Regions from separate parts of the Homo sapiens genome. Here region 2 is linked to region 1. The links come from fine-mapping of genetic effects on gene expression. A gene starts in region 1. The other region holds a variant in brackets. All regions are shown on one strand. Distances are from middle to middle.

Region 1 (5,384 bases):
TAAAATTTGTATAAGGTACAACCTGGAGTTGACATTTAAAATTTCTAAATGTGGTGCCTTGTGTAGCTCTGCCAAAACAAGTTATCATGAGGGGGAAACGTTTCAGAATATGAAAAAATACAAGAACTTGCCTTTTCATATATAAGCACCTAAGTATCATGTTGCTTAATACTAAAGAAATTTTAAGAGACTCACTTTCCATGAGTGATGATAAAAGAAACTATCATGTTCATAAATGTATTAACAATGTTTATCTGAAATAAACATCTCAACTCATGGGAGTTTTTCATGACTTACATGAGTTGAATCCACTAGATGTTTCCAATGGCCATATTCCAAGGGCTTCTAAATTGTTAGGTCTAAGATATCTACCAAGCCCTCAAAGGTCCATGAAGGAAGATTTAATGATTACCCAGGGGTCTTATTCATGATGTCCTTCTTCTCTGTCCTTCTACTAATATGCTGCCTTTAATATAGTTCCCTGAAGCTACACAGGAAAAAAAGGTAAAAATATAAGAGCCTCTTCTTCAAAAGTCACTGAGAATGCAAGAGTTTGTAATGGGAAGCTCAAGATAAAGAAATCATTTTCTTTCAGTCATCATCTCTAGCTATAGGATAGGAGATGGAATCTTTTTAATAGAACAGAAACAGCAGGAAAGGAAGTGAAGGTGGTTTACTAACATAAACGTATGCCAAAGGGAATAAACCAAAACAAAAAAAAAAAAAAACTCTGCACTAACACAATAAGAGCGAGCCAGGAATTCAGAATCTAACAGTTCTACAGTCCTTTTCACTGTAGACATTAAGACAATTTAATTGAAGAATATTTTTCAATCTGTGAATCTAAGAAGTTTGTCCTTGTACATCACCTTGCCTATATTTTCTTTGGTGATTATATCCTTTGCTTTCCCATAACAGGCCTTGGTATGCTGCTTAAAATAATATTTGGGGCTTTATTTGCCATCCTTTTGAATGAGACATGTTGATTTTATTAAAGCAAGTTGGGTCTGCATTCTTTCTTTACTATTATTACAGGTAGACTTGACAGACACAGGACCTTTGTTTTAAAATGCTCTGCTCTGGAGGAAACCTTGTTAAATAAGTTCCATTTTACCTGCTGGGCAGTTACATTCTGAAGGTGCTTCTCTTGCGATTCTTATTTTAGCCATATGTTCATAGGATTTCTGTAGGAAAAGAAGAGTTATTAATAATCATCAGTAGCACTGTAGAGGGATGGAGTCTTTAGGGACTCTGGCCATACGCCTGATTTACCGGCATTTCATAACCTGCATAACTAACATTTACATATGTACTTGGACTCTAGTCAAGAAAGTAACCATGCCTAAGTCCTAAAAAAAGAAAATGACCACTGATAGGGTATCAAGATTGCTGGACTTGTATAACATCTTTCTCCATTCTTCTCTACCACCACTCTCTCCCTCAGCTCAAGCATATGCAGTCAATGTAAAAACCTAGCACTAAAATGTTGCAGTATTAGGTAAGCTGTGGCTTACCAATAACAGCCAATATTTTATACATGAAGGTCAACTGCTTTATTTATCATGCTAGGCTGCAACTACTGCCAAATAGGCTCCCGGCTAGGGTAAGGTTCCAGAAAACCCCCTTACTCTAGTCTAAAGGTACCCTTACACATAACATAGATTCCTCTCAACTCTCAATTCCAAGGGCTCTGCATTCATAAATACCCCGGCACTGCATCCTTTACCAAAAATAAAGCTACTTTAAAAAAAAAAAGTTTAAACTTTTAATATGAAAAGATTCAACGTGTGAAATTATTGATTTTAAATTATATATGACATTATTTTACATTTAAGAGTGATTACCTTTTTTATATATTAATAACATCTATGACCCTAACCATCTTACAACATGTAAAAGATTTAACAGATGCTATCTCTGCAAGAAATATTCTCTCCACAATTGGGTTTGACTTAGGACAACTAAAAAGAGATAAAATGCCCTTTCCGAACCCTTTTAGACCTTCCTATGTGTTTAACACGCAAACATTAAGAGAGAGTGAGGGAAGATTAGAGATAGGGATGGGGACATCAAGGGATGTGCACATATAAATATATGCTACAGTGAGCATAGATCCTTGGCCAACACATGCACGCGCGCGCACACACACAGCCACACCAAGTATGGGTACAGTAAGGGTAGCGGCTAGTCATGCACACAGAGTCACGCTTGTACAAGATGTTACCCACGTGCAAAATACCCCAGCCTCTCACACCTGAGCCAGAAGTCGCTCCACTTTCTCTTGCACCATAGTCTTGAGGTGATCCAGGGTATCAGGCAGCAGATGAATGGAAGGGGCCCCTTTGGCGGATTCGAGAGCGGCGATCCTCGCCTGGAGGTCGTTGGTTTTCACACCCAGGTACAGGCAAGACACCACGGCCACCACTGACAGGAGGGCCGCCAGGACGGCACACGGGGGCATGGTCCGGGCACAATGCTGTTCGGCAGGGGTCGGGTCCTCGGATCTGGGCTCCCGGCCCCCTCCTTTCCCTGCGTGCTTCTTCAGCAGCATCGTGGCGGGGTCGGCCGTCTCGGCTTCGCTTCCCACCCTCTACACCTCAAATAATCCTAAAAGGAAAGAAAAAGGTCGATTCCTCCAAAGTTCAGTCCCTGTGGCTGCACAACTAGTTGGTGGAGTCAAGCCCACGAGCGGATACGGACCCCTGCCTTGCTCAGCGTCCAGACCCGCAGGCGTGCACCATCCCCGCTTTCTTCTCTCCTCCCAGCTGGAAGTGAAAAGCACCCTCCGTCCGGGGACTGGGTGGCGGTGGGGTAAAAAGCAAGACGAAACCCACCCAGACAGCTCTTCCGACTCCCAGAGGACCGACACCTCTTTCGAGGGCCCCAACAGTGGCCGCTCAGGGTCCGAGGGCAACGGCCGAGGCGCCACGCGGGGCCGCGGCTCGCCCTGGCCACGGAGGACCGGACCTGTTGCGCCTCTGTGAGTTTGCCTTATTTCTACCTACTCGGTGTCTTTCGGCACGCCGACCTGTTTCCCACCTGCATTCAGTTCAAGGCAAAAAGGCTGTGAGAGCACGCTACAGCGCAGCGCGAAAGGGGCGACTAAGGTGGAGAAGAGAGAGGAAAACGAAATAAACCCAAGGAACCAATGCTACTCGCGAAGCCGAAGTCGCGGCTGCCCGAAGGATCTCCGCAGCCCCGCGTGCGCGATCCTTAAATACCCTTCGCGATGCTCGCGTGAGTGTGTGTGTGAGTGTGTGAGTGCGCGCGCGCTCCGAGCACGACGTCCCTCCCCCGACCCCCTCCCGGCGCCCGGCGTCCGGCCTGCCGCTCCCGCTGCTGCGCGCCCCCCTTCCGAAGGCAAAGCAGGAGCCCGCCTTATTATCATAATGTATTCACCTTGGCCCAGCCCGCGGGCCGGCCCGGGGAACCCCCAAGGGAGGCGGGAAGCTTGGGTGGGAGCGGGGCAGGAGGTCTGTTATTAGCATAATGTATGCAAATAGCTGGAGCGGCCACCGTGATTGGAGAGGAGCCTGGCGACCCCTCCCCCTGCGCGGAGTAACTTCAGCATCTCCGAGGGCCACCTCTCTGGCCTGGGCCGGGGCCGAAGCGGGGTCGGCTGCGCAAGAGGCGGCAACTTTGGCTTATACTGACTCAGCCCAGCGCCCCCTTTTTATCCCACATAAAAATGGAGAAATGGCCTCCGGGAGGAAGATGTGAAGCGGCACGCTCTATCTCTACTGATCTTCACTCAAAAGCAGCCGCAGGAGCTGTTGCTATCTCGCTGTGGTGCAGCGCTTTTCCCTCCTCCCTCACTTTCCCACATGCCCAGAGGCAAAGTGTCTGGCCGACGTCTGAGGTACATTTCCCCACTTCCCTTCTCTTCCCACTGCAGCCCTCAGATTGTCCAACGAGGGGAAGTTTTCCTTCCCCTCCCCCAGTTTCCTTGTCTTGACGGCACTGAGTCTCCTCCCAGCTCTGTATTCCTAGTCTGTACTAGGGTGCTAATGTGTTTTCCTGATTCCCTGTTTTGCGGGATTGGAAAAGGGAGTGTTGAGGTATACACATTTCTCAGGATTTAGGAAAGGAATGAAGAATGAAGTCAGTTTTTCCTTTTACCTGACTCTTAATGCTGTTCTCTCTGGATCAAATTACAAGGTCTCTAATGGGATTTTGGAAAGTTGGTAACAAGTAGCATTTGACATCTAATTGACTTTGGGGAAAACAGAAATCCCACCTCTTATTCCAAAGAGTTCCTTCTTATCTCCCTATAAAAAAAAAAACCATATATTTTTCCTATTCTCCTTAATTAAGCTAACCTGAAGTCGTTGCTTACTATTGTAAACAGTCAACAAAATACTTCACTAAGTTGGTCTTTCACATGTGTAAACGGATATTGCTAGGTGTGAAGCAAGGTAAGGAAATAACAGCATTAGAGGAAGAAAGAGACTAACATTGGAGGAAAACTCAATGAATTTGGCTATAAAGTCAAAACCATAATTCATTTGTATTACACAGTGGTTCTCAAAGGATGGTCCTAGACCAATAACATCAGCATCACCTGAGAACTTGGACATTAAAATTCTAGGTTCCTACCACAGATCTGAATCAGAAACTGCTACTACCACTACTGAAATAATAATTTTAAAAAAAACAGCAATCTGTGTTTTAACAAGCCCTCCAAATGATTTTGATATATACTACTAAAGTTTGAGAACCACTGGTATAATACTTTCCAAAATATTTTCAAATACTTTTTGTATTTGAACCTCATAACCCTGCGATGTGAGGATTTACTGTTCCTCTTTTAAATATAAACAACGTTTTTAAATAAATTTTAAAACAGATAAATTTCAAGTCACATTTAATTGTGATTAAACATGTTTCCAATAACAGGACCCAAATAATGGGTACAAATATTTTAATGTACAAACTCTTTCTGTAACCTCTAGCTGTTCCTTAGTCTCATTTGCAGGCTTTTCCTCTTTCATTTCTCTGAAAGTTGGTGCTCCTTGGGTCTCTGTCTATTCCATCTTCTCTGTATACTCTCTCCAGTAGAGTTCCCATTACACTGATGAGTCATAAATTCATATCAAAAGCCCAAACCTCTCTCCTGAACCTCAGATCCATATAGCCAGTTGCCTCTTTGTCATCTCCGTTTGGATGTCTCACTCTCATTTCCAATGTAACCTGCAGCTTACCTCCAAATTCTGTCTGCTTCCTCTGTTTCCCATCTCAGCCAATGGAGTTGCCATCCATCCAGTCTCCCCAAGCCAAAATACCCAGTTGCCGGCCCTGACTTCTCCCTTGCCCTCCTCTCCTCATCTATTTAGAGTCCTTCAATAATTCTGGTTGTCCTTAGGACAAAGATCTTACATCTTTCA
Region 2 (5,384 bases), 330 kb before region 1:
CTTTACAGGATAAATGAGAGAATACATGGAAAATGTAGTCTGTAAATACCTAGGTTCAAATTCTGGTTCTGCCAGTGAGTGATTATTATTTTGGACAAAATATTTAAATTTTCTAAGTCTTGGTTTCCTCATCCATTAAATGAGAATAATAAAAGTAAGTATTTCATAGGGTTGTTGAAATAAGGTGTGACATCATAGAGTGATTGGCGTATTTTAGGAACTCAATTAAAGTATCCTTATTGTTATTATTTCAAACACAGATATTTCTGTAACCCCTATCATTTCACATTAATGTTGATGACTTTATAACAACTACCTTATTGATAGGGAAGCAGTCTTGTTCACTGAAAACAGAACAAACTAGAAGCTGAGAAAGCCAGGTTTAAATCCCATTTCTACCACTTACAATTTATGTCAACTTGGGCAAGTTACTTTACCCCATATTCCTCATATGAAATATGGGAAGAAAAATCAGGTATGGTTTGTTGAGAGCTTATTACAGATTTTTTCATATACTACTTTATTAATCCTGATCATAATCATAGATAGTGGTAGTTAGAATTTGATCCCTGTCCAGCCTGACTTCAGCCCATGTGGATAATCATTTTACTCAACTGCATCCACTTTTCCCGTTTTCCTCCCTGATAATCTATCTCTCTGCACTATAGTAAGGCTTAGAGATGATGTATGCAACTTACCTAGAAAAGTATCCAGCAAGTTGTAAGACTAAGCTATAGGCAATTATAATTATTATGTGAGGTCTTATTTCCTAGTCCAACTTTCTTATTCAACCTAGGAATCCCCGACAACTTCCTTTCAGCAGGTTGTGTAATCTCTACTTAAATACAAGGTAAAGTCATAGCCTCAAAACTTTGCAATACAAAGCTATGAGGATGAAATAAAGAGAATCAATTATCTCTTTACGCCCGGATACTCTATGCGTGGTGACCGACAGCACAGATAAAGCACCATCCCAACCCTAAGCCTAAAGGCCTAATGAAATGCAGTGTTTGGAAGAATGAATTAAAGATTAGTGGCAAATCTGCAATGACATCTCCCCAGGAATCAAGGCGGGAAGTACAATTCTTATGTCAGGATGCATTCATTTGTGGAAATCTAACACTCAGTGCCTCGTAGAATAAAACCAAATGATATTTGTGGTTATTATATTACACCTAAAACTGTAGGCCTGAAATTGGTTCAATGTATACTGAAAGAAAGTTAATGCCGAAAAGTTAGCCCACTTTCTCCTGCATTAAATCATATGCCATCAACTGTATTCAAAGACGGTCAACTTTCCTACCATTACCTTTTAACTTCTTGCAATCTGACTTCCACTCTCACTACTTAACAAAAGATATTCCTTTAATAGCCCATGACTCCAAAACAGCAAATCCAAAGGCTTTTGAAAGACCTCATCCCTGAGGCTCTCTTTTTATTCAGAATATTATATTGGCCACTCTTTTTTTTTTTTTTAAGTAGTTTTGTGTGTGGTGTTCACACAATGCAGTGTCCTGCTTCTACCTTCAAATGCTCTCCTTTTGCTGACACTCCTTCCTTCCTCATCCCACTCCGTAAGTGTGAGTATTTTTAAAGACTCTATTCTAGGGCAGTACTCTTCTTACTCTTTTGCCTACCATGTTTCTAATTCCAGGATTTCAATTCTCCCTCTGTGATAGTTCAGCTGTGTAACAGTTACCTCCAGTTATGGCACTGCCTCAGAATTCTAGTCTCATGTTTCTGTTTGTTACACTATTCCAATGAAATATCTCATCAAGATCACGAATTCAACATAATTAAAATCCATCTTCTCACTTATCCTCCCAACTTTCTTCTGACCTATTTTATCAAGCATCAAGCCAGAAACTTTAGCCCTATCTTTGTCTTCTTTTTCAACTTCATCCCCTACATCCAACTGGCTTCAAGACTGGTCTTGAATTTTCACCTCAGCGTCTTTCCATTTCACTTCCTGACTGCTTTTTAAAAAAACTTTAACCTGACTACAACTCCAGGGTCACAGGTCCTCAGTGTCAGCTGAATAGGGACACTTGTTCAAGTGTCCTCAAGACTCCTCCCTCACCAAATGCTCCTCTATCAGTGTCAGCCCTGATTTCCCTCTTTGTCTACTCAGGTGTTTGCTTGGCACTTGGGGTAAACCTTATTGATTGGATGACCTAAGTTCCCTTTCAGCCCTATTC[C/T]CCTTGTCCCTTCCAGCTTTTGGATGACTGTGTGACACAACCTAGCCAATGAGACATGACCAGAAGTCTACTAAGAAGTTCATAGGGAAAATGTTGCTTTCTTGATTCAGACTCTTTCCTCTCTATCCTTCCTGCTGATATACGCCTAGATGCAATGGTTGGACTTGAAGCAGGCTTCCTGCAATCATGAGACAAGGCCAAGAGATTCACAGACTTAGTAACATCATTGAATCAACAGTAACACCATTTAATTATATACATAACACTATCAACTGCCTTCTCCAAACTTCTTTTTATGTGAGAATAATAAACTCATATCCTAGCTTTCATGGTGAAATTGGAGCTTTTGTCCGTATTTTGGTGACCACTTTGGAATCTCTTTCTTGGTTCATCAACTTACCACCTCCCACTCCACCTCTCTCCCTAACCCCCGCTGAAATTCTACTCTGACACTGACCTTTCTACTCAGTATGTGTCCTTGCCTCCAATGATACCTGATGTTCCATGCTAAGTCAGCTCATCCGTTCTGCTTACCTCTCCACTGAGGACTGGACATTGTCTGTACAGCCTAGATTCTTATGACTTTGTCCTAAATGAGTGACATAGTTTCCTGGTCTACTTGGTCACCCTGCTTTCAGTCTCTTCCAATTGTATTCTATAGCAGATGCTACCACCAAATATATATATATAAAATAATTGTTTTGAGCCCAAGTCTCACTCTGTTGCCCAGGCTGGAGTGCAATCATGCTATCTTGGCTCACTGCAACCTCCACCTACCAGGTTCAAGTGATTCTCCTGCCTCAGCCTCCCAAGTAGCTGGGATTACAGGCACTCGCCACCACGCCTGGCTACTCTTTGTATTTTTAGTAGAGATGGGGTTTCACTATGATGGCCAGGCTGGTCTCGAACTCCTGATGTCAGGTGATCTGCCTACCTCAGCCTCCCAAAGTGCTGTGATTACAGTGGTGAGCCACTGCATCTGGCCTCTAAAATATTTTTATAAAGAACATTTGGTAATAAGCACAGATAGTCTCAAAATAAGATAAGCACAGATTACTCAAAATTCTCAATGGCTCTCTAATGCCTACCACGCTAGACATTCAAAATGCTCCATAATATAACTTCAATCCAAAATTTTCCATCTATATGACACAATATTTTACTTAACCTACTTATTGGCAAATGGAATATTATTTTTTAGGGTCCTTTTTAAAACTTACTTTTAATTGACAAATACAAATTATATATATACTGTTACATATGTTGTTTTGAAATATGTATACATCATGCGATGGCTATATCAGGCTAATTAACATTTGTATTACCTCACATCCTTATCTTTTTTGGTGAGAACACAATGTACTCTCAGCAATTTTCAAGAATACAATATATTGTTATTAACTGTGGTCACGTTGCTGTACAGTAGATCTGTTGAACTTATTCCTCTTATCTAACTGAAAGTTTGTATCCTTTGACCAACATCTCCTAAAACCCTCCCCACCAGCCATGGGTCACCACCATTAAATGCTCTACTTCTATGTATTCAACTTCTAAAAATTCCACATATAAGTGAGATCATGCAGTTATTTATCTTTCTGTACCTGCCTTATTTCACTTAACATAATGTCCTTCAGGTTCATCCATGCTGTTGGCAAATGAAAAGATTCCCTTCTTTTTTAAGGTTAAATAGTATTCCATTGTGTATACCACATTTTTAAAAATCACAAATGGAATATTATTGTTCCTTAACTAAATCCTGCCATTTTCTACTTGGATAATATTGTTTATACTATTTCCTCTTCCTGGAATATGTACTGTCTTGCTCTTCAGTGTATCCTCCTAAAGATTACCAATTTATCAAGTTCTAGCTCAAGTGTCACCTCTTCCACAGTTGACAGTGCTCATTTAAAATGAAAGAATTTTCACTTTTCTAGCACCTCTTGGTATATCTATTTGAGGGATATAACATATAACCACACAGTTTTCTTACTCAGGTACCCATGAAATTATCAGCTTCTTGAGGGCCATAATGATATAACAATATTTTATTCATACATTCAACAAATATTTATTGAATCTTCACTATTCTATGTGAAGGGGTATGAACAAGACAGAGAAGAACCTTGCTTTTATGGAATATAGGACCTAAGGAGGGAGGGGGGCATACTTTATAGATAATGAGCAAGTAAATACATAAACAAGATAGAATAATCTCTGGTTCAGATTGAGTAGTTAGAGAAGTTCTCTCAGAGGAGGTGATATTTGAGATGAAGTTTCAATGATAAGAAGAACCCAATCACAAGAAGACCAGAAGAGGGCAAATGGAAAGCTGTCGAGTTGGGTGAAAGTGCAGTGTGTCTGAAGAGGACATGGAGGACAGTGTGTGGCTGAGTGTTGTAGGTGGAGGCAAGACTAGTGTGAGATGAACTGGTGGGGATGGGCAAGAGCTAAGCACAGCAGGTTGGATTTCATTCTAAAGTTTTACACAGGAGTAACATGATCTAATTTACAATGTCAAGTGATCTCTCTGCCTGCTGTGTAGAAAATGGATTATATAAGGTTAAGAGTGGAAATAGAAAGATTAATTGGAAAGCCACTGAAGTAATCAAGAACATGAAAGTAAGTTGAATTTGGTGGTTAGTAGAAGAGAGAGATAAGTGGACACATTTATTGTGTCTATAGTATTAAGCACAGTATCTTAAAGATGGTAGCTGCTCAATATATACTGCTGAATATATGTCCAAGTACTTAAAAATAGTCTCACATTCTTAATTTCTATATGATCTTCAAGTTTTTCCAGCTTCGATTTACCTCTTATGGCTTAATTTATTCCCACTGGACACTTGGGGAGTCAAAGAGTTAAAACTTCCAAATATTCAAGAAAATGATATAGGTCTCATGATGGAAATTCACCTGACAAAGAGCTGACATGATGGAGTTTGGAGTTCACATTGTTATTTATGGGAAGAAATAAACTATTGGAAACAAATGGTAAAAAGCGTAATTCAAAATCTGCAACAGGATGAAAATGGACAGGGTATTGGAATACAAACTCTACATTTAAAAAAAAGAGAGCCTTTGGTCATCATCAGCAAGAATACCGTGCCTAAATAGAGAATGTGGGTAAAATTAATTTTCATTAAAATTGGAAACTTTTCCAGTTCTTGCTTTTGATGTTTTTTGAAA

Which allele goes with the higher level. Positions count from the first base shown, and alleles are read on the strand shown. Sizes are in standard deviations (SD) of each study's normalised expression.
In carriers of allele C in region 2, the expression in left ventricle of the gene that starts at base 3,190 in region 1 tends to be lower than with T alone (small effect, 0.36 SD a copy in GTEx).

The links. PIP is the estimated chance that this variant, and not a neighbour inherited with it, causes the effect.
Region 2: its variant is the best candidate, but not a certain one, in a credible set for the expression of COL25A1 in left ventricle (GTEx, PIP 0.83).

The regions. Positions count from the first base shown.
Region 1 is chr4:109,299,469-109,304,852 of GRCh38, forward strand. COL25A1 (collagen type XXV alpha 1 chain) reads right to left here and starts at 3,190. Exons shown (of 38, transcript NM_198721.4): 1 at 2,701-3,190; 2 at 2,255-2,607; 3 at 1,115-1,184. The coding sequence starts at 2,551. It overlaps COL25A1-DT (COL25A1 divergent transcript), which reads left to right and starts at 3,567. Exons shown (of 3, transcript NR_160939.1): 1 at 3,567-3,859. RefSeq lists an enhancer at 3,262-4,044.
Region 2 is chr4:108,967,019-108,972,402 of GRCh38, forward strand. The region is part of intron 8 of COL25A1 (collagen type XXV alpha 1 chain); the gene reads right to left. Among named protein-coding and RNA genes, the nearest start is that of ETNPPL, 210 kb to the left of the region's middle. RefSeq lists an enhancer at 3,204-3,373. The variant C/T (reference allele first, on the strand shown) is at 2,199.